Regions from separate parts of the Homo sapiens genome. Here all the other regions are linked to region 4. The links come from fine-mapping of genetic effects on gene expression. A gene starts in region 4. Each other region holds a variant in brackets. All regions are shown on one strand. Distances are between the middles of the regions. Region 1 overlaps CLUAP1 (clusterin associated protein 1). Region 2 has its middle 11 kb from the start of SLX4. Region 3 overlaps SLX4 (SLX4 structure-specific endonuclease subunit). Region 4 holds the start of DNASE1 (deoxyribonuclease 1). Region 5 holds the start of SLX4 (SLX4 structure-specific endonuclease subunit). Region 6 overlaps SLX4 (SLX4 structure-specific endonuclease subunit).

Region 1 (4,086 bases), 150 kb before region 4:
GCCTGGGTGGTACACACTCATAGTTCCAGCGACTCAGGAGGCTGAGGCAGGAGGATCACTTGATCCCAGGAGTTTGAGGCTGCAGTGCCACTGATCATGCTATTGCACACCAGCCCGGGCAGATTGAGACTGTGTCTCAAAAAACAAAATCAGGCCGGGCGCAGTGGCTCACGCCTGTAATCCCAGCACTTTGGGAGGCCGAGGCGGGTGGATCACGAGGTCAGGAGATCAAGACCATCCTGGCTAACACGGTGAAACCCCATCTCTATTAAAAACACAAAAAATTAGCCAGGCGTGGTGGCGGGCGCCTGTGGTCCCAGCTACTCAGGAGGCTGAGGCAGGAGAATGGAGTGAACCCGGGAGGCGGAGCATGCAGTGAGCCGAAGTGTGCAGTGAGCCGAGATAGCGCCACTGCAGTTCAGCCTGGGTGAAAGAGCGAGACTCCGTCTCAAAAAAAAAAAAAAAAAAAAAAAATCAGTGGAGTTTAAAGAATGCTGTGGGAGTGGGAAATATACCAGGAAGTCGTGAAAGGAGACGACTATTCCTCAGTAGGATGCTGGGCCAGGCTGCTCTTCAGCCCCTCATGGCAGAGTGACAGGGGCCTTTTTGCACATTCTGATCAGTACACTGGATTAGAAATAATGGAGATTTCTTTTTCTGTGAAAAAATTGAATATGTTATATGATTCAGGGTTGGCAGCTTTTTCTGTTAAGGACCAGATAATATTTTACCTTTTGCTAAATATAAAATTCATAAGATCTCTATTGCGTCTCTTCTTTTTGTTAAAATGTAAAAACAGTTCTTAGCTTGCAGGCTGTACAGGTCGGAGGCTGCAGTCTGCTGACCCCTGGTTTCAATACCTTGAAGAAAATAACTTCACCAACTCTGCTGCTGCTTAGAGCTGACTAATCGGCCCTAGCACTGATCTCTGAGTCAAGGGCTGTCAGCCAGGGTAGCAGTTCTGATTAGCTTCATGACATGGTGAGATCTGAGAGAGATTTAATTTTATAAGCTGAGATCCACATTTAGTTTTTGAAATCTGTTTTTCTTAGGTGGGGATTTGCTCCCTTGGTATTTGGTTTTGCTTTTGAAGTTTGCCTTGATCTCACTCTCCCACTTGGGGACTTGGAGAGCGTTGTGTTCCAGACCCGCTGTCCTCTCAGTTGCCCACATTCTCTTTAGTAGACTTTCTCCTTGGTTAACCCGTGCTCTCTCCTCTTACCTCTCTTGATAGATATGAGCCCCAGACTGACATCCCGCCTGACGTGGATACTGAACAGGACCGAGTTTTCTTCATTAAGGCAATTGCCCAGTTCATGGTTAGTGGACACTTATTTTGTGGAGTTGTAAAATTAAATAAACTAGAAAGGATGACTCCTTGTTAGGGCGACTTTCAAACTGTGTAATTGAGTTTTTCTTTCTTTTTTTTTGAGATGGAGTCTCATTCTCTCGCCCAGGCCGGAGTGCAGTGGCACAATCTTGGCTCACTGCAACCTCCGTCTCCTCGGGGGTTCTCCTGTCTCAGCCTCCCGAGTAGCTAGGATTAGAGGCACACGCCACCACACCTGGCTAATTTTTGCATTTTTAGTAGAGACTGGGTTTCACCATGTTGGCTAGGCTGGTCTCAAACTCCCGACCTCAAGTAATCCACCCTCCTTGGCCTCCCAAAGTGCTGGAATTACAGATGTGAGCCACCACGCGCCTGGCCTGAGTTTGCTTTCTAAAACCATTCCATTGCTGGGTTTCTGTGGCACCATTTCACCAGCGAAGTTCTTTTTGTTTGTCTTTTAATTCATTATTTGTTAAGAATTTTGTTTATGCCAGGTGTGGTGGCTCACGCCTGTAATCCCAGCACTTTGGAAGGCCGAGGTGGGCGGATCACGAGGTCAGGAGATTGAGACTATCCTGGCTAGCAGGGTGAAACCCCGTCTCCAGTAAAAATACAAAAAATTAGTTGGATGTGGTGGCGGGCACCTGTAGTCCCAGCTACTCGGGAGGCTGAGGCAGGAGAATGGTGTGAACCTGGGAGGCAGAGCTTGCAGTGAGCCGAGATCACGCCACTGCACTCCAGCCTGGGCAACAGAGCAAGACTCTGTCTTAAAAAAAAAAAAAAAGAATTTTATTTATTTATTTTTGAATAGATAACATATTTCATGGCTCACAAATTGAAAGTAGGCTGGGCGTGGTTGTTCATGCCTGTAATCCTAGCACTTTGGCAGGCCAAGGTGGGAGGATAGCTTGAGT[C/G]CAGGAGTTTGAGAACAGCCTGGGTGATGTAGTGAGATCCTGTCTCTACAAAAAATAAATTTAAAAAAAATTAGATGGGCCTGGTGACACGTGCCTGTAGTCTCAGGTGCTTGGGAGGCTGAGGTGGGAGGATTGCTTGAGCCCGGGAGGTTGAGGCTGCAGTGAGCCGGGATCATGTCATTGCACTCCAGCCCAGGTGACAGAGTGAGACCCTATCTCAAAAAAAAAAAAAAAATTAAAAACATTATGAAACAAAATGGAGTAAAATGACTTTTTACCCTATCTGCCCTGGGCCAAGTTCCATTCCAAATAACCACTATTTTAAATCTCTTCCAGAGTTTGTGTGTGTGTGTGTGTGTGTGTGTGTGTGTGTGTGTGCAAATAAAAATATATATTTTTCCTTTGTTTTACACAAATGGTACTGTATTCTACTTGATGTACTTACTGTACACTACAAGATGTTTAGCATCTTGCTTTACTTAATGGTATATTTTAGAGAACTTTCCAAATACATATAGAATTTCCTCATTCTGTTTACGCCTGAGTGGTATTGCTTGCATGGATTTGCCATAATTTATGTAATTTATATAGGTAGGCTTTTAGGTTGTCTGAAGCTTTGCTCTTTGGAACAGTGCTGTAACAAATAACCTGTACATCTCATTTTGTTTGTGTTTGAGTGTGTCCCTAGAATAAGTTCTTAGATTTGGGATTGCTGGGTCAAAAGATATGTGCATTTGTAATTTTGATGTCTTTTACCAAATTGCTCTCCATCAAGATTGTCCCAGTTTATACAACCACTCACAATGTTTGAGTCACTTGAATGCTTTGCTTTTATTAGGTTATATCCCAGTTGTCAGCAGAGGCATTTTCAACTCACCTACATGGGATTTAGTTTAGACATTACATGGAAAGGGCCTTCAACTTTTTTTTTTTTTGGTCTAAAAATAGGCCACCAAGGCACATATAAAACTCAACACTAAGAAGCTTTATCAAGCAGATGGGTATGCGGTAAAAGAGCTGCTGAAGATCACATCTGTCCTTTATAATGCTATGAAGACCAAGGGGATGGAGGGCTCTGAAATAGTAGAGGAAGATGTCAACAAGTTCAAGTTTGATCTTGGCTCAAAGGTAAGGACAACAAAAGCCTTGTAGTGGGCGATGGAGCGTTGATTTCTTGAGCTCTGAAGTGGAAGGAGTCTGCTACAGCTCCGCTGCTTTTCTTCCTCCTCAGCTGAGGGCAGTTTGTCAGTTTTGTGCTCATCAGCATTTGGATAAAGTCAAAGTCACAATCCACTAATTCAACTATTTATTAAAAGCTTAGTATTTGTCAGGTAGCATTCAAGCGCTGAGGATACAGTTGTGAACAAAAAGGACAAAAATCGTGTGTTTATTCTCTTCAGTTAGGGGAGTCAGACTGTGAACAATAAGAGGTGTGGAAGGCCAGATGCAGTGCAGGCTGTGGAGAATAATAAGCTGGGATGGGGATGGATGCTGCCCAGAGTGATCTTAAATCGGGTGATCAGGAAGGCCTCATGGATTGGATGGTGTTTCCAGCAGAGATCCAAGGGAGGGAAAGAGTGAGTTGTGCGGGTGGCGGGTGGCGTCAGGGTGTCTCAGGATGATAATTTGTTTTGGGCTGGGTGCAGTGACTCACTCCTGTAAGCCAAACACTTTGGGAGGCCGAGGTGGGAGGATCCTTTGATGCCAAGAGTTCCAGACCAACCTGGGCAACATAGTGAGACGCCATTTTTACCAAAAAAAAGAAAAAAATTAGCTAGGCGTGGTGGTACACACCTGTGGTCCCAGCTGCCCAGGAGGCTGAGGTGGGAAGATCTCTTGAGC
Region 2 (4,086 bases), 32 kb before region 4:
AAAAGGCTTCGTATAATTAGTAAAGAAACCTTTTATTTATTTATTTAGAGACAGAGTACTCAGTGTGTCACCCAGGCTGGAGTGCAGCGTGGCCTGATCATAGCTCACTGTAACTTCGAGGCTGCAGTGAGCTGTGATCATGCCACTCTACTTTAGCCTGGGTGACAGAGTGAGACCCTGTCTCAAAAAAAAAAAAAAAGTAATTATACTATGCATATTGCATCATGAGCATTTCTCTAAGTCAGTAGATAGGAAGCCATATTATATTCCATATTTAATCAAACATTCCCCTGTTGATAAAGATATATTTATAGTTTTTATCATTATAGATTATGCAATAAATGTCTTTGTACTTATAACCTGTATGTGTGTGTTTTTATTTCTTTTGGAAGGAGTCCTAAATCTAGGATTTCTAGGCTAAAGGGTATGTGTGTTTTGTTTGGTTTGCCTGATTTTTTTTTTTAAAAAGTTTATTATTTATTTTGAGACAGAGTCTTACTCTGTCACCCAGGCTGGAGTGCAGTGGCGCAATGCCGGCTCACTGCAACCTCCGCTCCCCAGGTTCAAGCGATTCTCCTGCCTCAGCCTCCGGAGTAGCTGGGATTACAGGCGCCTGCACCACACCTGGTTAATTTTTGTATTTTTAGTAGAGACGGGGTTTCACCATATTGACCAGGCTGATCTTGAACTCCTGACCTCGTGATCCACCCGCCTCAGCCTCCCAAAGTGCTGGGATTACAGGTGTGAGCCACTGTGCCCGGCCTATTTTATATTTTTTTTAGAGACAGGGTTTTGCTGTCATCCATGCTAGAATGCAGTGGCACGAGCATAGACTCGAACTCTTGGGCTCAGACAATCCTCCTGCCTCAGTATCCCGAGTAGCCAAGAGTACAAGCGTGTGCCACCACACCCAACTGACTTTTAAAAATTTTTGTAGATATGGGGTCTTGCTATCTTGCCCAGGCTGATCTTAAACTCTTAGCCTCTGGTGATCCTCCTGCCTCCAAAAGTGCTGGGTTTACAGGTATGAGCCATTGCTCTTGCCTGGTTTACCTGTTTTAGAAAAGAATACCTGTACATTGTTAATTTTTTTTGTCCAGGAGCTTCAGAAGGGTACAAAAATTCCCTCCTACTTCTGGCCCCCTGACCTCCAAACTCCCTCATCAGAGGCTTCTTGAAATATTCCAGATAATTCTGTGCACATACAAATATAAATATATATCCCTGCTTTTCCCCAATGTAAATAAACGGTAGCACATTTTACCCATTGTTCTGAACCTCGTTTTTGCAACTTAATGAACTGTCTTGGAGATTTTTCCTTATTACATATAAATCTATCATTTTGTTTAGCAGTTGCATTATATGTCATCATTTGGATACATTCATACTTCATTGTATCACCTATCAAGGGACATTAGATGGCTTTCATTTCCTTCTACAATGGCTAATGGTGCATTGAACATACTTGTATATACTTTTATGCAGATTTGCACATATATTTGTAGGATATTCCTGTAACATAAGTGGAATTGCTGGGTCAAAGGATATGGGTAAATCAGAGTGTTTTGGGGTGTTACCCAGTTACCTTCTAAAGAAGCCAAATTGGCCAGGCGTGGTGGCTCATGCCTGTAATGCCAGTACTTTGGGAGACCGAGGCAGGTGGATCACTTGAGGTCAGGAGTTTAAGAACAGCGTGGCCAACATGTTGAAACCCCGTCTTTACTAAAAATATAACATTAGCTGGGCATGGTGGCGCACCCCTGTAATTCCAGCTACTCCAGAGACTGAGGCAGGAGAATCGCTTGAACCCGGAAGGTGGAGGTTGCAGTGAGCCAAGATCACACCACTGTACTCCAGCCTAGGTGACAGAGCAAGACTGAAAAAAAAAAAAAAAAAAACGGAGGCTGAATCAGTTTCCATTCCGTTAACAATGAATGTCTTTTTACTCATATCCACACACTCACAGAATATATCATGAAACATTTTGTCTTTTACTATTTCAGCGGTTAAAAATTGGTGTCTTGTAGCTTTACTTTACATTTCTTTCATTGAGGAAACGAGTATTTTCTTCACGTGATTAAAAGCTACTTGTTTACCTATGACCTTATGTTTGTGGGCTTTGCATTCTTTTAGATTGTGTGATTAATCTTTTTCCTATTGGTTTGTAAGATTATGTGATTAATCTTTTTCCTATTGATTTGTAAGAACTCTATATTGTGGAAATGGATATAGTGTTACAATGTTACAGATA[G/C]TTTTTACCAGTTTTTATCATTTGACTTAAAAAAATTTTTTTTCTTTTTTGAGGTGGAGTCTCACCATGTTGCCCAGGCTAGACTTGAACTCCTGGGCTCAAGTGATCCCCCTACTTCAGCCTCCCACGTAGCTGGGACTACACCTATGTGCTACTGTACCTGGCTTGGCTTTGACTTTTAATAAAATTTTTTCCATGTAGAGCTTTACAGTTTTTTGTAGTAAAATAACTTTTCTTGTATGCACATACCTTCTTCCAGTGTTTGACTCACCTTTACGTTCTCTTAATGATGCCTTGTAATGAACAAAGGTTCTTCAAAGCTGGAGGCATCACATTACCTGACTTGAAATTATACTACAAGGCCTCTTTTGGGAGAGTGAGGGGAAAGGATTTCTTGAGAGCTTGAGACCAGCCTCGGCAACATAGTAAGACTCCATCTCTAATGTACCTGCCCCCCACGTCCCCCCAAAAAAATTAGCTGGGCATGGTGGTGCACACCTGTGGTCCTAGCTACTCATGCAGTAACTAAAACAGCATGGTACTTGTACATATTTTTGTACCATAGATCAGTGGGACAGAATAGAGAACCCAGAAGTAATGCCACTTGCCTGCAACCAACTGATCTTCAATAAAGTTGACAAATATGCAGTGGGGGAAGGACACGCTATTCAATAAATAGCGCTGGGAAAATTGGCTAACCATATATAGAAAAATGAAACCGTACCTCTATCTCTCACCGCATACAAAAATTAACTCAAAGACTTAAACATAAGACCTGAAACTCTAAAGATCTTAGAAGAAACCCTAGGAAAAACTCTTCTGGATATTAGCCTAGGCAAAGAATATATGACTAAGACCTCAAAAGCAAATGCAACAAGAAGAAAAATAGGCAAATGGGACTTAATTAAATGAAAACACTTCTACACAGCAAAAGAAATAACAGAGTAAATAGACAACCTATAGAATGGGAGAAAATATTTGCAAATTAAGCCTCTGGCAAAGGACTAATACGTAGTATCTCCAAGGATCTCAACAAGAAAAAAAAACCCATTAGTAAGTGAGCAAAGGCTGGGCGTGGTGGCTAACACCTGTAATCCCAGGACTTTGGGATGCTGAGGCAGGAGGATCACTTGAGGCCAGGAATTAGAGAGAAAGTAGGCAAAGGACAAGAACACATACTTCTCAAGTGAAGACATACAAGCGGCAAAGAAACATGAAAAAGTGCTCACATCAGTAATCATCAGAGAAATGCAAATCAAAACCACAGTGAGATATCATCTTACACTGGTCAGAATGGCTATTATTAAAAAGTCAAAAAACAACAGATGTTGGCATGGATGCACAGAAAAGGAAATGCTTATATGCTGTTAATGGGACTGTAAATTACTATAACCTCTATATAGAAAACAGTATGGAGGCCAGGTGCGGTGGCTCACTACCTGTAATCCCAGCACTTTGGGAGGCTAAGGCAGGCGGATCACTTGAGTGCAAGACCAGCCTGGCCAACATGGTGAAACCCCGTCTCTACTAAAAATACAAAAATCAGCTGGGCGCGGTAGTGCACGCCTGTAATCCCAGGAAGCTGAGGCAGGAGAATCGCTTGAACCCGGGAGGCAGAGGTTTCAGTGACCTTAGACTGTGCCACTGCATTCCAGCCTGGGCGACAGAGTGAGACTCTGTCTCAAAAAAAAAAAAAAAAGGTTAGTGGCTTTTGTGTCCTTGGTTAGCAAGGTCTTCTCTACTTTGAGATTATAAAGTAATTTTCTGCATGTTTTCTTCTAGAGTTTTTATTTTTACATTAAAATTGTTATTGGCCAGCTGCGTAAGGCACCTGG
Region 3 (4,086 bases), 56 kb before region 4:
GAGGCGGCACGGGCTCCTGCATAAGGCCCTGAAAGAAGCCAGTAAGGAGAGTGACCACGTGGTCACTGTCATTGACGCACACACTGCAGAAGCCATCACATGTGGTATGCACGGCTGGACCTAAAACTACAGAGCAGGATGTGGGCTGTGGGGACAGACTGTCCCCGGGGCTCCAGCCACAGCCTGGAGCAGTCCTGGGATGCTTTTCCCCAGCACTCATGTCAACATGCTCCTCCTCTGTCACGGCCAAGGCCAGGCCTGTGGCATCTGTTTGCACAAAGGCTTGTCAGAGGCCAGGGGGGCCCAGGCCTGCCGCCCTCCTGAAGTCCTCCAAGCTGCCTCAGGCAGCTGCGTACTGACTGTAGGGCTACCTGCCGCACGACTGTCTGGAGTGTGTGCTCCGAATGCCAGTTTCCGGGCTCCATCTGAGGCATTTTGCCAGTTGCCCTGGGACTCTGTTTTTTTTTTTTTTTTCAAGACAGAGTCTCACTTTGTTGCCCAGGCTGGAGTGTAATGGCACGGTCTCGGCTCACTGCAACTTCCGCCTCCCCGGTTCAAGCGATTCTTCTGCCTCAGTCTCCCAAGTAACTGGGATTACAGGTGTGTGCCACCATGCCTGGCTAATTTTTGTATTCTTAGTAGAGATGGGGTTTCACCATATTAGCCAGGCTGGTCTCGAACTCCTGACCTCGTGATCCGCCCACCTCAGCCTCCCAAAGTGCAGGGATTACGGGCGTGAGCCACTGCGCCCGGCCGGGACTCTGCATTTTCAACAAACTCCAGGAACACACTCTGGTGGACACCAAGGGTCCTCCCTGATCCTACCCAGAGTACCATGTAGTTGCTGGACAGAGAAGAAAGCTGCAGCCACCAAGTGCCCCTCTGGCCTCCTCCCGCCTCTGCCTTTCCTTCCTGGACTTTCCATCACCTGGCTGTGGGTACCCAGTGTTGCAGTTCTGGGATTGCCAACCTCCCCCAAAAGCCTATCCATGTGCCTGAGGGGAGGGACTCACCTGGGCAGGCCGCTGGGGCACGAGAGGAGGGACCAGCCTGGCCGTGTAGAAGTCCTCCATGGCCCAGGCCCCAGTCAGTGCGCTGCCCTCCCACAGAAAGCTCTGCTTGCGTTCAGGTGGAGGAGGACACTGGCCCGCTCTTTCCCACCCTTCCTTTAAAATCCTGCTGGCAGGAAGTGGTGGCGTGCTAGACAATTCCACTTCCTCAGAGAGGAGCAGGGCCACACGGTCCTCTATCTGTCGGCCTGTGGTTTCAGAGTCCTGGACTAACAACAATGGGGGGGATACCGGGGGTTTCTTCTTGCGACTTTTATTCTCTAGAGAGAAACAAAAGCGACACCATCAACGGTGGAGTCGGTCCACTCACCCGGGACCTGCTGATGGCCTCTCCCAGGGTCACTCTTCTGATCACACAAACCTGCTTCTGGTCTTATCCTCTCAGAAAAGGCACTTTCCAGCCTGAGCGCTGGTACAGCCGCACCCGGCTCCATCTCCGACCGGGACAGAGCCATGGCCACCAGCAGGTCCTCGGACGGTGCCTCGTCCACCTTCCGCCTCTTCCGTGGCTCCTTCTTGCTGGTGGGTCCTCTCCGTTTCAGACCTCTACTGTGATCACTGAAGCTAGAAAACAGCCAAAGAGAAAAGTTACTGGGGCTAGAGGAGTGCACGCTTCTCAGGTTGGTCACACTGGTCTGGAGAGGGCTGGGCCTGAGAGAAAAGTGACGGATGTGGACCTGCCAGGCAGATGCGTCCCCCACTTCCACTGCCTTGTGTGAACTCATTCAATTCCAGGCCAGAAGTTCAACATGGCCCAGGCACAGGAGGGTCTGGGTTCCTTCACGTGCTGCTGTCCAGCAGGCTCATGGCAGATGTACGGAGCCATCTGTGGTACCTGCACATCCTCATGTGGCCAAGCCCATCCAATGGAGTCAACAATCGATGGCTCTGAGCAGGCTCCCTGGACTCCCACCACCTTCACCCATCAATACTTCCGATGCTCCTTACACGGTCCTGGCCACACCGGCAGAAAAGGATCCCTTCCCTCCTGCAAGGGCTCCACGGCAGTGCCTCTGTCCATGGCCAGAAGGAAGGGCTTCCCAGCTTAGGCTGCCGATGGTCAACATTATACCAGCCGCCCCGGGACTCTGCACTTTCAACGGGCAGCAGCTCGTTTGGTTTGGAGGAAATGAACAGGAGTTTCCGGCTGGAGAGA[A/C]CCTAGGCTGCCTGGGTGACTCCCAATAAGCTGGGCAAGAAGGAGGAGGGCAGAGGTGACAAAGGAACTTAGCACAAACCGGGCCCACCTTCCCTGCAATGCAGTCATGCCTCTGGCTTTTGCAAAAGCTCATGCTCTCCAGGGTGCCAGGGATGGCTCAAGTTCACCTTCCCAGGAACGTGGATAATCACAGCCTCCCAGAGGGAAAGGAGCTGCCTGGGCAGCCTGGGACCCTGCTTCTGTGAAGGGAACACAGACTGTGTTCCCTCCTCACTCCCCAGCAGGCCAGGTTTGGGCTGTGGGGAAAGAATATGAGGCACTCTGGCCGGGGCATGCGTTCTGATGACCACAGGCTTGGCCTTTGGGGAGGGAGGGGTTCAAAGACCCCATGAGGGCATCCAGCTCCTGTAGTTTTCTACTCTGACAACCTTCTAAACGGATCCACATACATCTAGTTTCAGTACTTGGAGGTATTCTAAAGGCAGACATACTTTATCTGAGCAGGTGCTTTTGGCGTGGTCCTGCCAAGAAAGAAACAATGGCTTAGATGACGTCTATTCTAAGGCCTCAAGGCTTGCACCCCTGCCATGCTAAATACAGATGCGCTCCTCCACCAAGAGAATCCCCTCTGCCCTCTGCCATCTCAGCCCCGAGCCAGCTCAGCTGCCCATGACCTGTGTGCAAAGCAGGGGGCGGGACAAACAGCTATCGCCTTTGGCCTTCCCTTTGCTCCTGACAGCGGTCTCAAACCTGGAGGAGTCAAAGGTCCAAGATGCCTTTGTTCACTATGAACCTGGTGTCAGCTCTAGCGTCCTCAGCAGCAGGGCAGCGTGGAGCAGGGCCAGCCCTCTGGCACTTGTGTGGCTGTGGTTTGCATGCTGAGGACTTGTTTCCTGGCTGTGAGCAAGGCAACTCATTTTAACTTTTAAGCATTAATTCATGCAAGATTTTTAAAAAATAGGGTCCTACACTTCTGTTGCACCAACTTTGTTGTTGTTTTTGTTTGTTTTATGAAGACAGGTTCTTGCCCTGTCGCCCAGGCTGGAGTGCAGTGGTGCAATCACAGCTCATTGCAACCTTGGCCTCCCAGGCTCAAGTGATCCTTCCGCCTCAGCCTCCCACGTAGCTGGGACTACAGGTGTGCAGCACCACAGCCAGCTAATTTTTTAATTTTTTGTAGTGATGGGTCTTGCTATGTAGTCCAGGCTGGCCTTGAACTCCTGGGCTCAAGTGATCCTTCCGCCCTGGCCTCCCAAAGTATTGAGATTACAGGTGTAAGCTACCGTGCCTGGCCAATCACCAAATCTGTGAACTGTGCTGAGTAATCTTATGTTAACAGTGTGAAAACTGGACTGTGCTGAGGTGGAAACCATGCTGTCCAACAACGAAATGGATGGAGTAAAGTGACTACCAAATTCTTAGATGTGGTAAAGCAGTAGTCCCCAACCTTTTTGGTACCAGGAACTGGTTTCATGGAAGACAATTTTTCCATGGGACAGGAGTAGGGGAATGGTTTCAGCATCAAAGCATTCCACCTCAGATCATCAGGCTTTAGATTTTCATAAGGAGAGCTCAACCTAGATTCCATGCATGTGCGGCTCACAACAGGGTTTGTGTTCCTGTGAGTCTAATGCCACCACTGATCTGACAGGAGGCGGAGCTCAGGCAGTAAAGCTTGCCTGCCCGCTGCTCACCTCCTGCTGTGTGGCCAGGTTCCTAACAGGCCACAGACCGGTACTGGTCCGAGGCTGGGGGGTTGGGGACCCCTGCACTAGAGGGTACCGACTGTGGGATCATGGGATTGGAAACTCAGGAAGGACCTTGAGGAAAACAGTGCGAAGATCATTTCTGCACCCCCCT
Region 4 (4,086 bases):
TGGGTCGCTGTCAGATGTGTGTCCAGGAAAGGCAAACACCAAAGGCAGAGGACTAGTCCCTACACCGAATACTCCGGTGGCCTTGCTTGGGGGCTGGGTTTTGACGTGCTGGAGGCTGTCCTAGACTTAGAGATTAAAAACAGGGAAGAACCATTGCTGAAACCTTTGGAAAAGCCTGCAATGGGGCCTCTGGCAGCCTGAGGAGTGGTGGTGTTTCCATCTGGTAGACGCCGTCTCAATAGGAGGGACAGATGAGTGCACCAGTGCTGCCAGCCAGAGGCGTCTGTTGGCGTGTCTTTATGGAATGGGGTGCCAGTCTTGTGGAGGGTGGTTTACCTTCCTGTTTCTAGTCCCCACTGGGCCTGCCTTCTGCTTCATGGCCAGCTGGCCAGACCGAGCACTTTCCTGACTTTCGACCTTGGCCCCTGCTGACTCTTGCCGTTGAGGCCTCCTGCAGACCCCATTTGTATTCATTTCCTGCAGTTCTCATACCTGAATCCCGCCTGGACTTCTGCCAAGCCTTCCAGGCCCTCCTCCCCCAGGGGGACCACAGATGCTACGTGCAGGGCTGTCCTTGGAGGGCCAGCACAGCCCCTTCCAAGTGGGCAAGACCCAGGGGTGGCTCAAAAGATAGCTGTGCCCTAGCCCTGGAACCTCTGAATGTTGATTTTTGTAGCAAAAAAGGACTTGCAGATGTGAGTAAAGGCTGTTGAGATAAGGACATCCTCCCTGCTCTCTGGGAGGACCCCAAATGCAGGTGCACAGATCTTAAGAAGAAGAGGCAGAGACTGGGGTGATGCAGCCACAACTAAGGAAAGCCAAGGATTGCTGGCAGCCTGCAGAAACTGGAGGGCAAGGAGCATCCCCCAACCGCCCGGAGCCTCCAGGAGGCGCAAGGTCCTACTGACTCCCTGACTTCAGACGTCCAGTCTCCGGAATTTTGAGAGGATCCATTTCTGTTATTTTAAGCAACCAAACTTGTGGTAGTTTCACCAGTCTCAGGAAATGAATACGAATGGAAAGTCAAAGATTCCAAGAAATGAGTGGCGGGGTGCGGTGGCTCACACTTGTAATCCCAGCATTTGCGGGAAGATTGCTTGGGCTCAGGACTTGGAGACCTTGTGTCTGTGAGAAACTTAAAAAATAGGCTGGGTGCGATGGCTCACGCCTGTAATCCCAGCACTTTGGGAGGCCGAGGCAGGCGGATCACAAGGTCACGAGTTTGAGACCAGTGTGACCAACATGGTGAAACCCTGTCTCTACTAAAAATACAAAAATTAGCCGGGTGTGGTGGTGCGTGCCTGTAATCCCAGCTACTCGGGAGGCTGAGGCAGAAGAATTGCTTGAACCCAGGAAGCAGAGGTTGCAGTGAGCCGAGATAGTATTACTGCACTCCAGGCTGGGCAGCAGAGCAAGATTCCGCCTCAAAAAAAAAAAAAAAAAAAAAAAAAAAAAAAAAAACTGAGCATGGTAGCATGCACCTGTGGTCCTGGCTACGCCGGAGGATTGCCTGAAGCCAGGAGTTCAAGACCAGTCTGGACAAAAGAGCAAGACCCCATCTCTACCAAAAAAATTTAAAAATTAGCCAGGCATGGTGCCGTACCCATAGTCTTAGCTACTCAGGAGGCTGAGGAGGGAGGATTATCTGAGCCCTGGCGGTTGAGGCTATAATGAGCCATGATTGTGCCACTGCACTCCAGCCTTGGCAACACAGTGTGAGACCCTGTCTCAAAAACAATAAAAACCCAAAACAAAAGAACCAAGAAATTACTGGACCTGAGGCCTGGCCTTTAGCTGCTGCCCTGCCCTTGTGACCTGGTCACTCGGGATCCCCTGGGCCTAAACACACAGCCTATTGTCTACCTCAAGAAGGCTCCCCACTGCTTGGCTGGCAATTGGGGTGGGCTTTGCAGGCCCCACCTGTCCTGGCCCCACGGCGCTGGTGCTGCAGGCCCCCACCACTGCTTGTTCCGAGCTCCCCAGCCTCCTGCAGAGTTGCCTGCACCTGATGGCGATGAATCAGGAAGGCAGGCGTGTCCTGGGCCACAGAGCAGTCATGGCTGTCAGCCACCAGGGGGCTCCATTTGCAACTTTGGATGTGGCTTTGGCCTCTTTGTCCAAAGTGACCTTGGGGCCCCCAGACAAGAGACAGGGAGACTGGAGCCCAGCCCCACCCTCCCGCACATACCTGGCCCATCCCTGCCCTATCCTGGAAGATGGGGGCCACCACACGTGCAAGGGACACGGGATAGGAACCTTTGGCCTTGTTATCAGACATTTTAAAACTAAGTGCAAACGTGATTATCAGGTGCAGTTTTTACAGCAGCAAGAAACCTGTGCTTACAGAAAGAAACACGTGCTAGCAACCCACCTATGCGGAAAGCCACACAGAGCCATTGTTTTCTGCACTCTCAGGTGACGGCTCACATTTGCCCCAGGGAAGGTCACAGCTGCCTGAACTTTTAAAACTCCCAGACACGCACTGCCTGTGCAGGATCCGGAGCCCAGCAGCACTGCCAGGGCCTTGAAGTGCTTCTTCAGAGACCTTTCTTCATAGACTACTTTTTTTTCTTTAAGCAGCAAAAGGAGAAAATTGTCATCAAAGGATATTCCAGATTCTTGACAGCATTCTCGTCATCTCTGAGGACATCACCATCATCTCAGGTGAGCACCAGGTGGAGTGCCTCTGGGTGACTGGCCGGTTTGGAGCAGGGAGGGAGGCTTAGAGTCTCATCCTCCAGCAGCGAGTGAGGCGGAGGCTCCAGCGTCCCTCCCGGGCGGGTTTTCTGGTGGATGGAGGAGTGACTCGGGGTCCTCTACGTGGTGCCAGCTGTTTGGCTTTCTGGACGTTGTAGGAAAGGGTTTCCCCCGCCTGCGTCCCCCTGACCTTGAGCTCCACCAGCCCCTGCCAGCTGGGCTCCAGAAGGCTGGAGTGCTGTGGCAGGGATGACGTCTCACTTCTGTTATGTCTCTGTGCCCTGTGCTCTCCCAGGATGAGGGGCATGAAGCTGCTGGGGGCGCTGCTGGCACTGGCGGCCCTACTGCAGGGGGCCGTGTCCCTGAAGATCGCAGCCTTCAACATCCAGACATTTGGGGAGACCAAGATGTCCAATGCCACCCTCGTCAGCTACATTGTGCAGGTGAGGCCAGGGCAGCCTCCCCCCAAAAGCAGAGGAGCTCTGGAGTCTAGGGCTGGTGGGCAGGGCCAGCCCTATGGAGCCACAGGGTGTCGGGTGTGGGGTACTGAGCACCACTGCTCCCAGCACGGTGGAACAGGCTCTTGGCTGTGGACCAAGGTCCTCATCCCTGCTGTGCTGTCCCTGGCTGGCAGCAGGAGCCCAGGCAGAAACATGAGGCTGCGGTTAAACCGAGCAATGCCACGAGCATCAGCTGTGGCTCCCTTTGTGGCGCTGTAGGGTCCCTGGGTGGCACCAGCCCTGCTCAGCACCACTGTGGCCCTGCCCCCAGATCCTGAGCCGCTATGACATCGCCCTGGTCCAGGAGGTCAGAGACAGCCACCTGACTGCCGTGGGGAAGCTGCTGGACAACCTCAATCAGTGGGTGACAGTGGCAGGGTCATAGGAAGGTGACATCTCGTCCACGGCACAGCCTCACTTCACTTGGGCCCCAAGGGTGGGGACCTGGGCACAGCCTCGCTATCGGCAGCCAGAGGGGTCCCCTATGGCCCCCGCCACTGGGACCTTTTGTTTCTTCAATCCAGGGATGCACCAGACACCTATCACTACGTGGTCAGTGAGCCACTGGGACGGAACAGCTATAAGGAGCGCTACCTGTTCGTGTACAGGTGGGTGGTCTAGAAAGCCAGGAAGCCCCTCCCTCACCTGGGAGGGCCCCAACAGAGCAGGGAAGTAGTTTGTCCTATTAGTTTGTCCTATGGCAAGAACCTGAGGCTTCAGAGCAGGGTCCAGGGTGGAGTGAAAACACCCCAAGGTCCCGGACCAATGGGTTGAGCAGGTGCCTGGCTCCCCCGCCCTCCTGTCGCCTGGGTCCCGGACCAATGGGTTGAGCAGGTGCCTGGCTCCCCCGCCCTCCTGTCGCCTGGGTCCCGGACCAATGGGTTGAGCA
Region 5 (4,086 bases), 43 kb before region 4:
CTCCATGATGATGAAACATATATGGTTCACTTAATTACACATCTGTGGAAAACCAAAAGCATGTAAGTGTAATCAGACATTGTCATTTTATGCCAGTTCTTCCAGGGAGGGACAAGGGCATGTGGGGTGAGGGAAAAGTCTTCGGAGTAACAATACTGTCAAATACTCAGTCCAGCCTGGTTAACATGGTCTAACCGTCCTATCAGACATCACAACAAAAGGACCTAGAAACCTGTCAAAGCATGTTGTTCTTCCACAGGTATTAAAATATGTGCATCTTGGGAGAGTGTTTTCTTAACTGAAATTTAGGGAGCAAACCCCATAAAAGGCAGTCACCACAGAAACAGGATGATCCCCAAATCTAGGAAAACTATCTCCTACACTGATCTAAGACCCCTGGCTGTTAAAGAGGCTCTTTCTGTAAATACTGCAACATAAGAGACAGAAAGAGACATTATATTCTCATGAACACTCAGGAGAGAAAAGGTCACTTTTACTTATCTTCTCAACCCAGCAAGGCTCTCCAAACCTGGATGACTGGAATGTCGCCTGTGTGCAAAGGCTGGGCCTCGTGAGCATGGTTGTTTACTTTGGCACACAGCTAAGTGGGGTTCAAAAATCAAAACTGAATGACCCAATGGCAGAAAGTTATTCCTTTCAAATACAATAATGCAATCTCCACTGTCCAAGGAATCTAATTAATCATTTTGTTTTCCAGAGCTGAAAATACTCCTACCTAGAATCTACTTTGTATGGCTGGCGCATTCTCTTCTGTGTCTTCCCCTTAGAGAAGTGTCCTCTAATCCTTTATGGACCGTCTCCATCCCCGTTAATCCCTATCATCGCCCACTGTTTTCACAATGGCATCTGTCATAGGTTATCATCATATGAAACAGGTAATATCTATCGAATGCTTACTGTGTGCCAAGCACTGTTCCAATTGCTTTCCAAGTCAAACTCGTTTAATCCTTACAAGAAGCCTATATGGTGGAATCTCTTGTCATCCTGTCTTTACGGCAAGGAAACACGCGCAAGCAGAATGAGGAACTGGCCTAAAGCCAGTTCAGGAACAGCTTTCACAGTGGCAGGGCTGGGATCAAACCCAGGAAGTGTGGTTCGAAACTATCCGCTCTTGTGTTTTTATTCATCGGCTTATTATCTGTCCCCCATTAAGCTCAACACTTCAGGAGGGTAGAGATCCATCTATTACTTTGCAACCTCTTTGGCTGATCTGGTGCCTGACTTGAAATAAGTGCTCCACAACTACTTGTTGAATTCATGAATTGCAAAGAGTTCGGTATAATGGGAGTAGAGAGAAAGGTGTAGGAGAAAACGCTGCGGGGAGAGGAAAGGATTGGCTCACAAGGGCCTGGAAGGTCAGGCTAGGCAAAGTGAATTTTATCCTGTTGGATGCGGGGAGCGGCTGGAACAAATTCCACCTCCACAACTGTGTTGATCTCCGCATCTCTGTTGATATGAACCTCACAACAGTCTATCTCCTCCTATAGGTGCCCAGTCAAGATTTACTGAATGACATAACGGATCCTGCAAGCCTGCAGGTTTCCAGAGGGAAGGGGACTTGTGCCTCCTTGCTTCGTACCTACCGCAGCCCACGGCTCACAGCAGGCGAGGGATGAATGAATGGATCGGTAAGGGGCGGACCCTCCCGCTTCCCCCAACCCGGCGACCTACGGAAAGGGGCTGAGGGGTTCCCCGTCTGGGAAAAGGGCTGCCAAAGACTCTAACGGCTCTAAAGTCAGACGGAGAACCCCGATCCCCGGACTGGCCCGGACGGAGACCACCGTGGGGATCCGGATCCGCCACCCTCCTCCCTCCAGGCGGGCCCCGGCCCCTCTCCACCCGAGTGCGGCTCCTGCCTCTCCGTCGGGGCTGCGGGCCTGCCGAGGCCACGGAGCCAGCGAGGGAGACGGGCGAGAAAGGCTCTTCTCCCTTAGGAAAGAGAGAACGGCCCGAAATGACAGGACCTCCGCCTCCCGGGTGCCGACTCCCAGCCCCACAGCCCGGCTCCTCCTACCTCCGGCGCCGCCGCGGCACCTTCTTAACGGAGACTCGCGCGCCTGCGCATGCGCCGCCCGCGCCCCCGCGGAGCATTGCCTGCGCGCAGGCGCAGAGCGGGCGCGCGCGGTGGTGCGGCAGCCTCGCTTCCGGTCTTCCTCTGCGGCGCCGGGCGCGGGCCCGCGGCGGCCAGCGCTTCCGGTCGGCAGGAGGCGGGGCGAGGCGGAAGCGGCGCTTGCTTCAGGTGGAGTCTGTTAGTTTTTGAGAAAGAGTTAGGGCGAGTTTAAGGCACTGTGGCAGCTGTGAGATAAAGTCTGGTTCCTCCCCAGCTGGCTCAGGAAATGTTCGCGGATACAACGGCGGCCCCCTCTGGGCATACCTGCCTGTGGAGCGGAGAGTGGACGGTGTGAGGGGGACCGGGAGAGGCACCAAATCTGGCCTGGGGGCCCGAGAAGCTTCCTCT[C/T]AGGTGGGGTGGCGTGAGAGTCGAGGCCTGGAGGTCGGGGAGGGTTAGCTACGTGAAGAGGGGATTCTGCCGCGCTTCAGGTGCCTGGAGGGGATGCCCGAGCTCTTCCGCAGGGCTAGGGTGAAGCCAGCCAGGGCCTGGGGGAAAGGTAGCAGAGGTTTGCCATGGCTTGGTATTTGAGGGACTTTACACATCGTATTAAGGGTTTGAGCTTCAACTTGGGGTCGTCGGGAGCCATTGAAGGTTTTTTGTTGTTTGTTTTTTGAGACGGGGTTTTGCTCTTGTTGCCCAGGCTGGGGTGCAGTGGCGCGATCTCGGCTCACTGCAACCTCTGTCTCCCGGGTTCGAGCGGTTCTTGTGCCTCACCTTCCCAAGTAGCTGGGATTACAGGCGCCAGTCACCACGCCCAGCTAATTTTTGTGTTTTTAGTAGAGACTAGGTTTCACTCTGTTGCCCAGGCTGGTCTCCAACTCCTGACCTCAGGTGATCCGCCCGCCTCGGCCTCCCAAAGTGGTGGGATTACAGGCGTGAGCCACCGCTCACGGCTTTTTTTTTTTTTTTTTTTAAGTAGAGACGGGCGGTGGGGGCGGGGGGGGGAGTCTCACTATGTTGCCCAGGCTGGTCTCGAGCCCTGGCCGCAAGAGATCCTCCCGCCTCGGCCTCCCAAAGCGCTGAGATTACAGGCGTGAGCCACCACGCCCGGCGTAAGATTTTGTTTTTAAAGGCCTAATTACAGTGAGAACAGATGAGGCAAGGACACCCATTAGGAGGCTATTACATAATCTAGATGAAAAGTGAGAGCGGCCCGAATTAGGAGGTGGAGCGAAAAGAATGGAGAAATATGGAGCATAGTCAAGACGCAGTTGTTAACGATTTGCCGGTTTCTGGCCTTAACATCTGAGAGTAGTGTGCCTCCAGTCACTGAAATAATGAACACAGGAGAGGTGTAAAGGAATCAGTTTGCAGGGCAGACAATATGTTTTTTAAAAGATACAGTATCATAAAATGCACACTAGAAGTGTACATTCAGTGGTTTCCAGTACGTTCACAGGATTTGCAGCCATCGTCGCTAATTCCAGAACGTTTTAAAACCCCAAATCGAACCTGCCGTACCCATTCGTAGTCACTCCGCAATTCCCCCGACCCCATCCCCTGGCAATCACTTATCGGCTTTCTGTCTCTGTGGTTTTGCGTATTCAGTACATTTTATGTAAATGGGATCATGTGATACTTGGCTTTTTCTGCTGGGCTTTTATTAAGCATGTTTTCAAGATTTCATCCATGTAGATGAATCAGTACTGCATGCCTTTTCATGGCTGCATAATCACGTGTTTGGATGGACCATGTTTTGTTTATCCATGTATCAGGTGATGGGCATATGGATGTTTTTACTTTTTGGCTGTTAGAAATAATGCTGCTATGAACATTCGTGTTCATAACACAAGTTTTTGTGTTCTAGGAGTGGAATTACTGGGTAAGACTACATTTGATTCTGAATGTTGAGCTTCAAAACCTTCCAAGAGGTTTTCCTTGATGAAGGATTTAGGAGGTGTTTACTTGCTCTCTGGCTTGGAAATCTAAGTTAGTTTGTAATATGGTTTCCAACT
Region 6 (4,086 bases), 70 kb before region 4:
TGGGTGACATGCTCCAAATGCCACCCTAGAAAGCAGAGCCCAGAGGAGGAAGCCCTGGATTGGGCTGTGGTCATCATCACAGCGCAGAGCTGATGTGGTCCCCAGGCCCAGAAATGCCTGTGGAGGCCTGACCCACGCTGGGTGTCCCAGGTCCTCCCTGCAAATGGCGGGGGTGGGGGCTGCTGATGGCAGGTTGGGGTGGGGTCGGGATGGCCCCATCAGTTCCGCTCCACCTTCTTCTTGCCCCGAGGCTGCCGCCTCCTGCCCTGGAGCTTCTCCCTGCGGGTGGCGGCAGTGGTGAAGGTGATACAGTGGGTGTCCAGGAAGTCCAACAGCCTGCGCGAGGACACACGGAGGCCGTTCTGCCTCAGCTCTGCCTGCAGCTCCCGCAGCTCAAAGGGCTGGTACAGCAGCACCTTCTGGTACAGGGCCGGCTTGGAGCGGATGTAGCACCTCAGCGCCTCGTCTGTGTCCGCCGCCTGCACGGCTGCCTGCGAGGCACTGACCTCCCCCTCGCCCTCCTCTTCACCTGCAGACTCAAATGCCGCTCCAAACTCACAGGAGGAAGAACTGAAAAGAGCCAGACCAGGACGTTGTGCAACCCCTTTCTCTCCAGCCCCTGAGACCATGAGCCTCTTTAAAGGAAGGAAGGTGTCTACGGGTCCCATGGAGCCTGGCCTGTGGCACGATCCCCAGCAAGGCAGGACGGGCCTGAGAGATCCCTGCAGGCTACGCCAGCGGGATCCTGCCCCAGCCAGAAATGTCTAGCATGTGGGGCAGGAACCAGGAGGCCTGCGCAGGGCTGGGGTCAGGGAACCAGCCCCCTAAACCCACCTGGTTTTCCCACAGGTCAAACCCAGAAGGTGACGGGGGTTTTTGAAGATTGGCCATTAGGTCTCACTCGTGCCAACCCTCACGCCCACGGGCCAGAGGATACATGAGGCCACTGACCCCATCGCATCCATCCGGTTACCTCTGTGAGCTCAAGGAGCTGTCACTGCCATCCACAGAGGTGGCCACGGATTCTTGAGAGGCTGGGATCTGGGCGTCATCATTGAGGCCTGGAGGTGCCTCCTTGGTGGGCGACCTGCTTGGGGGTGTGATGCTTTCATGATGCTTCCTTTGATGTCGGGGGCCCTTGGTCTTAGCAGGTCCCTTGGGCCTATGGGCCCCAGGTCCTGTGGTGGCCTCCTGCTGGGCATGGACCCCTGCCCTTGAAGGCTTGTAGGTCTGGGAGGCGAGGGTCTGGCAGTGAGGCGCCTGCAACAGCGGCTGTGAGGACTGGCTCTCGTCCTCGGAGTCTGAGTCCAGGGTCTGGTGAGTGTACTGGAATATCTCCTTCAGCTTCAGAACCATCTGGCGTTTAGGCAGAGGGCGGACTCCAAACCTGACGGAGGAACAGGTGGATCTCAGGACCCACCCACACAGCTGGTCCACACTCCACGTTCCCTATCTTAGCAAAGAGTGATACCCAATGCATTCAGCGAATGGCTTGTGTGACAAACCATAGATGCCTGACTTCTGTGAGCATCAGAGGTTAGTGTCTATTCTAGGCGCCAACTAAGCTTACTCTGAATATTCCAAAAGAAACATTGCCAGCCAGGCACAATGGCTCACGCCTACAATCCCAGCACTTTGGGAGGCTGAGGCAGGAGGACAGTTTGAGCTCAGGAGTTCAAGGCCAGCCTGGGCAACATAGCAAGACCCCGCCTCTACAAAAAATACAAAAAT[T/C]AGCCAGGCGTGGTGGTGTCACCTGTAGTCCCAGCTACTAGGGAGGATGAGGTAGGATCGCTTAAGCCCGGGAGGCTGAGGCTACAGTGAGCCAAGATCACATCACTCTACTCCAGCCTGGGCAACAGAGTGAGATCCTGTCTCCAAAAATAAAAAATAAACAAAAGATATGCTGCTCCCAGTTCTGAGGGATGGTGGCAGCAGCAGCTTCCCCGGGTGCCCGAGTGGAAGAGCAGTGTCATGTGGATGTGAGAGTTAAATGTTCTTTTAAAAAAAATCAGGCCTCCGCCGGGCACAGTGGCTCACGCCTGTAATCCCAGCATTTTGGGAAGCCGAGGCGGGTGGATCACGTGGTCAGGAGTTCGAGACCAGCCTGGCCAACATGGTGAAACCCCGTCTCTACTAAAAATACAACAATTAGCCTGGTGTGGTGGCGTGTGCCTGTAGTCCCAGCTACTCGGGAGGCTGAGTCAGGAGAATCGCTTGAACCCGGGAGGTGGAGGTTGCAGTGAGCCGGGACTGCGCCACTGCACTCCAGCCTGGGCGACAGAGCAAGACTCTGTCTTTCAAAAAAAAAATCAGACCTCCTCACTCAGACTGCTCTGGCTAGGGGGCCATTTCCATCTACATGGAATATGGGGACCTGCTGCCCAGGGGTGACATGCACGAATCCTGTGTGTTGCCTCCCTGGGGAATGGTACGCAGAGAGAACTGGGAGGCTCACCCCGGCACCCAGCAGTCACACATGCTCCCTAAGGAGCTGACTGCAGACCTTTCTTCCCAAGCCCAGGCCAGCTGCATCCACCAGACCCAGAGACCACACGGGGGGCCCTTCCGCCCCCAGGTGTGTGAAACCCAGTTACTTATGGGAGGGAAAAGACCACTGTGGGCAACAAGCTTTGAAGACCGCCAACCTATCCAGTTCCTTCTTCAGCACCGGCGTCTCCATAATGGAATACTGTGGCATCGGCGTTATGGGCACTTTGGGGGGCAAGTTCTTCTTCCGATTAGCACCTTCTGGGTAAAACAAAAGAAGCACACGTTTTAGCATGAGGGACACGGATTTCCCACATCTGATCCCAGTAGCGTGACCAAGAGGAATAATGCACTTGAAGATAACCCAAGCATCGTTTTGCTCCATGAAAGCAACAGTGGTCACCCCTTCCCTGTCTGGAGCAGGGGCTTCCCAATGATAGCATCGGTGACACGCACTGAGGACCACACCTTGTATAACACGGGTGCCGGGTGAACAGAGCTCCTGGGGCCACTGAACCCAACAGCCCGGCACGTGACTAAAACTTATGCATGTAAACTTAAAAATATCTGACCCACAGTGACAACTTGAGACAATGGGCCACACTGATACTCTTCAAACAGGCTTAGACATCAGTTTTGCTTTTTAAAAATAATTCATCAATTTAAAAAAACCCAGTTAAAAAATGGGCAAAGGGGCCGGGCGCGGTGGCTCACGCCTGTAATCCCAGCACTTTGGGAGGCCGAGGTGGGCGGATCACGAGGTCAGGAGATCGAGACCATCCTGGCTAACACGGTGAAACCCCGTCTCTATTAAAAATACAAAAAATTAGCTGGGCGTGGTGGCGGGCGCCTGTAGTCCCAGCTGCTTGGGAGGCTGAGGCAGGAGAATGGCGTGAACCTGGGAGGCGGAGCTTGCAGTGAGCCGAGATCACACCACTGCACTCCAGCCTGGGCGACAGAGCAAGACTCTGTCTCAAAAAAAAAAAAAAAAAAGGGCAAAGGATGTGAACAGACATTTCTCCAGAGAAGATCTACAAATGGCCAATAAGCACATGAAAAGGTGCCCGACATCATTAGTCATCAGGGAAATGCAAGTCAAAACCACAGTGAGATACCACTGCACGCCCACTAGGATGGCCATAACAAAAAACACAGAGGGTTTGGGCAAAATGGCAGAACCCTATCTCTACAAAAAAAAAAAAAAAAAAATACAAAAAAAGTTAGCAGGGTGTGGTGGCCCAAGTCACCAATGTGGGCAGCTGTTTGTGGCTGGTTCCAGCTACTCGGGAGGCTGAGGTGGGAGGATCACCTGAGCCAGGAAGGTTGAGGCTGCAGCAAGCCATGAACACGCCACTGCACTCCAGCCTGGGCGACAGAGCAAGACCTTGTCTCAAAACAATAACAACAACAACAAAAACAGAATAACAAGTGTTGGTGGAGATTTAAAATGGTGCAGTCACTTTGGAAAACAGTCTCGCAGTTCCTCACAATGCTAAACACAGTTGCCATATGACCCAGCAATTCCACTCCTAAGTACAGAACCAAGAAGAAGGAAAACATGTCTACACGAAAACTTGCACATCAATATTCCTAAGTGGC

The links.
Region 1: its variant is fine-mapped to the expression of DNASE1 in whole blood (INTERVAL, PIP above 0.99).
Region 2: its variant is fine-mapped to the expression of DNASE1 in whole blood (INTERVAL, PIP above 0.99).
Region 3: its variant is fine-mapped to the expression of DNASE1 in whole blood (TOPMed, PIP above 0.99).
Region 5: its variant is fine-mapped to the expression of DNASE1 in whole blood (TOPMed, PIP above 0.99).
Region 6: its variant is fine-mapped to the expression of DNASE1 in whole blood (TOPMed, PIP above 0.99).

Annotation. Positions count from the first base shown.
Region 1 is chr16:3,505,097-3,509,182 of GRCh38, forward strand. It overlaps CLUAP1 (clusterin associated protein 1), which reads left to right. Exons shown (of 12, transcript NM_015041.3): 3 at 1,235-1,319; 4 at 3,193-3,372. Among named protein-coding and RNA genes, the nearest start is that of CLUAP1, 6.1 kb to the left of the region's middle. The variant C/G (reference allele first, on the strand shown) is at 2,245.
Region 2 is chr16:3,620,335-3,624,420 of GRCh38, forward strand. It overlaps a transcript of DNASE1 not described here. Among named protein-coding and RNA genes, the nearest start is that of SLX4, 11 kb to the left of the region's middle. The variant G/C (reference allele first, on the strand shown) is at 2,252.
Region 3 is chr16:3,596,366-3,600,451 of GRCh38, forward strand. SLX4 (SLX4 structure-specific endonuclease subunit) reads right to left here. Exons shown (of 15, transcript NM_032444.4): 6 at 1,432-1,634; 7 at 1,014-1,330; 8 at 1-28. Among named protein-coding and RNA genes, the nearest start is that of SLX4, 13 kb to the right of the region's middle. The variant A/C (reference allele first, on the strand shown) is at 2,227.
Region 4 is chr16:3,652,381-3,656,466 of GRCh38, forward strand. It overlaps DNASE1 (deoxyribonuclease 1), which reads left to right and starts at 2,311. Exons shown (of 9, transcript NM_005223.4): 1 at 2,311-2,664; 2 at 2,993-3,140; 3 at 3,469-3,557; 4 at 3,722-3,805. The coding sequence starts at 2,994. It overlaps LOC124903631 (a long non-coding RNA gene), which reads right to left. Exons shown (of 2, transcript XR_007064954.1): 2 at 1-4,086. RefSeq lists enhancers at 2,488-3,015, 3,016-3,543.
Region 5 is chr16:3,609,525-3,613,610 of GRCh38, forward strand. It overlaps SLX4 (SLX4 structure-specific endonuclease subunit), which reads right to left and starts at 2,082. Exons shown (of 15, transcript NM_032444.4): 1 at 2,036-2,082; 2 at 1-42. It also overlaps a transcript of DNASE1 not described here. RefSeq lists a silencer at 1,940-2,289 and an enhancer at 2,330-2,399. The variant C/T (reference allele first, on the strand shown) is at 2,480.
Region 6 is chr16:3,582,124-3,586,209 of GRCh38, forward strand. It overlaps SLX4 (SLX4 structure-specific endonuclease subunit), which reads right to left. Exons shown (of 15, transcript NM_032444.4): 13 at 2,646-2,748; 14 at 974-1,387; 15 at 1-570. The coding sequence ends at 219. Among named protein-coding and RNA genes, the nearest start is that of NLRC3, 6.8 kb to the left of the region's middle. The variant T/C (reference allele first, on the strand shown) is at 1,732.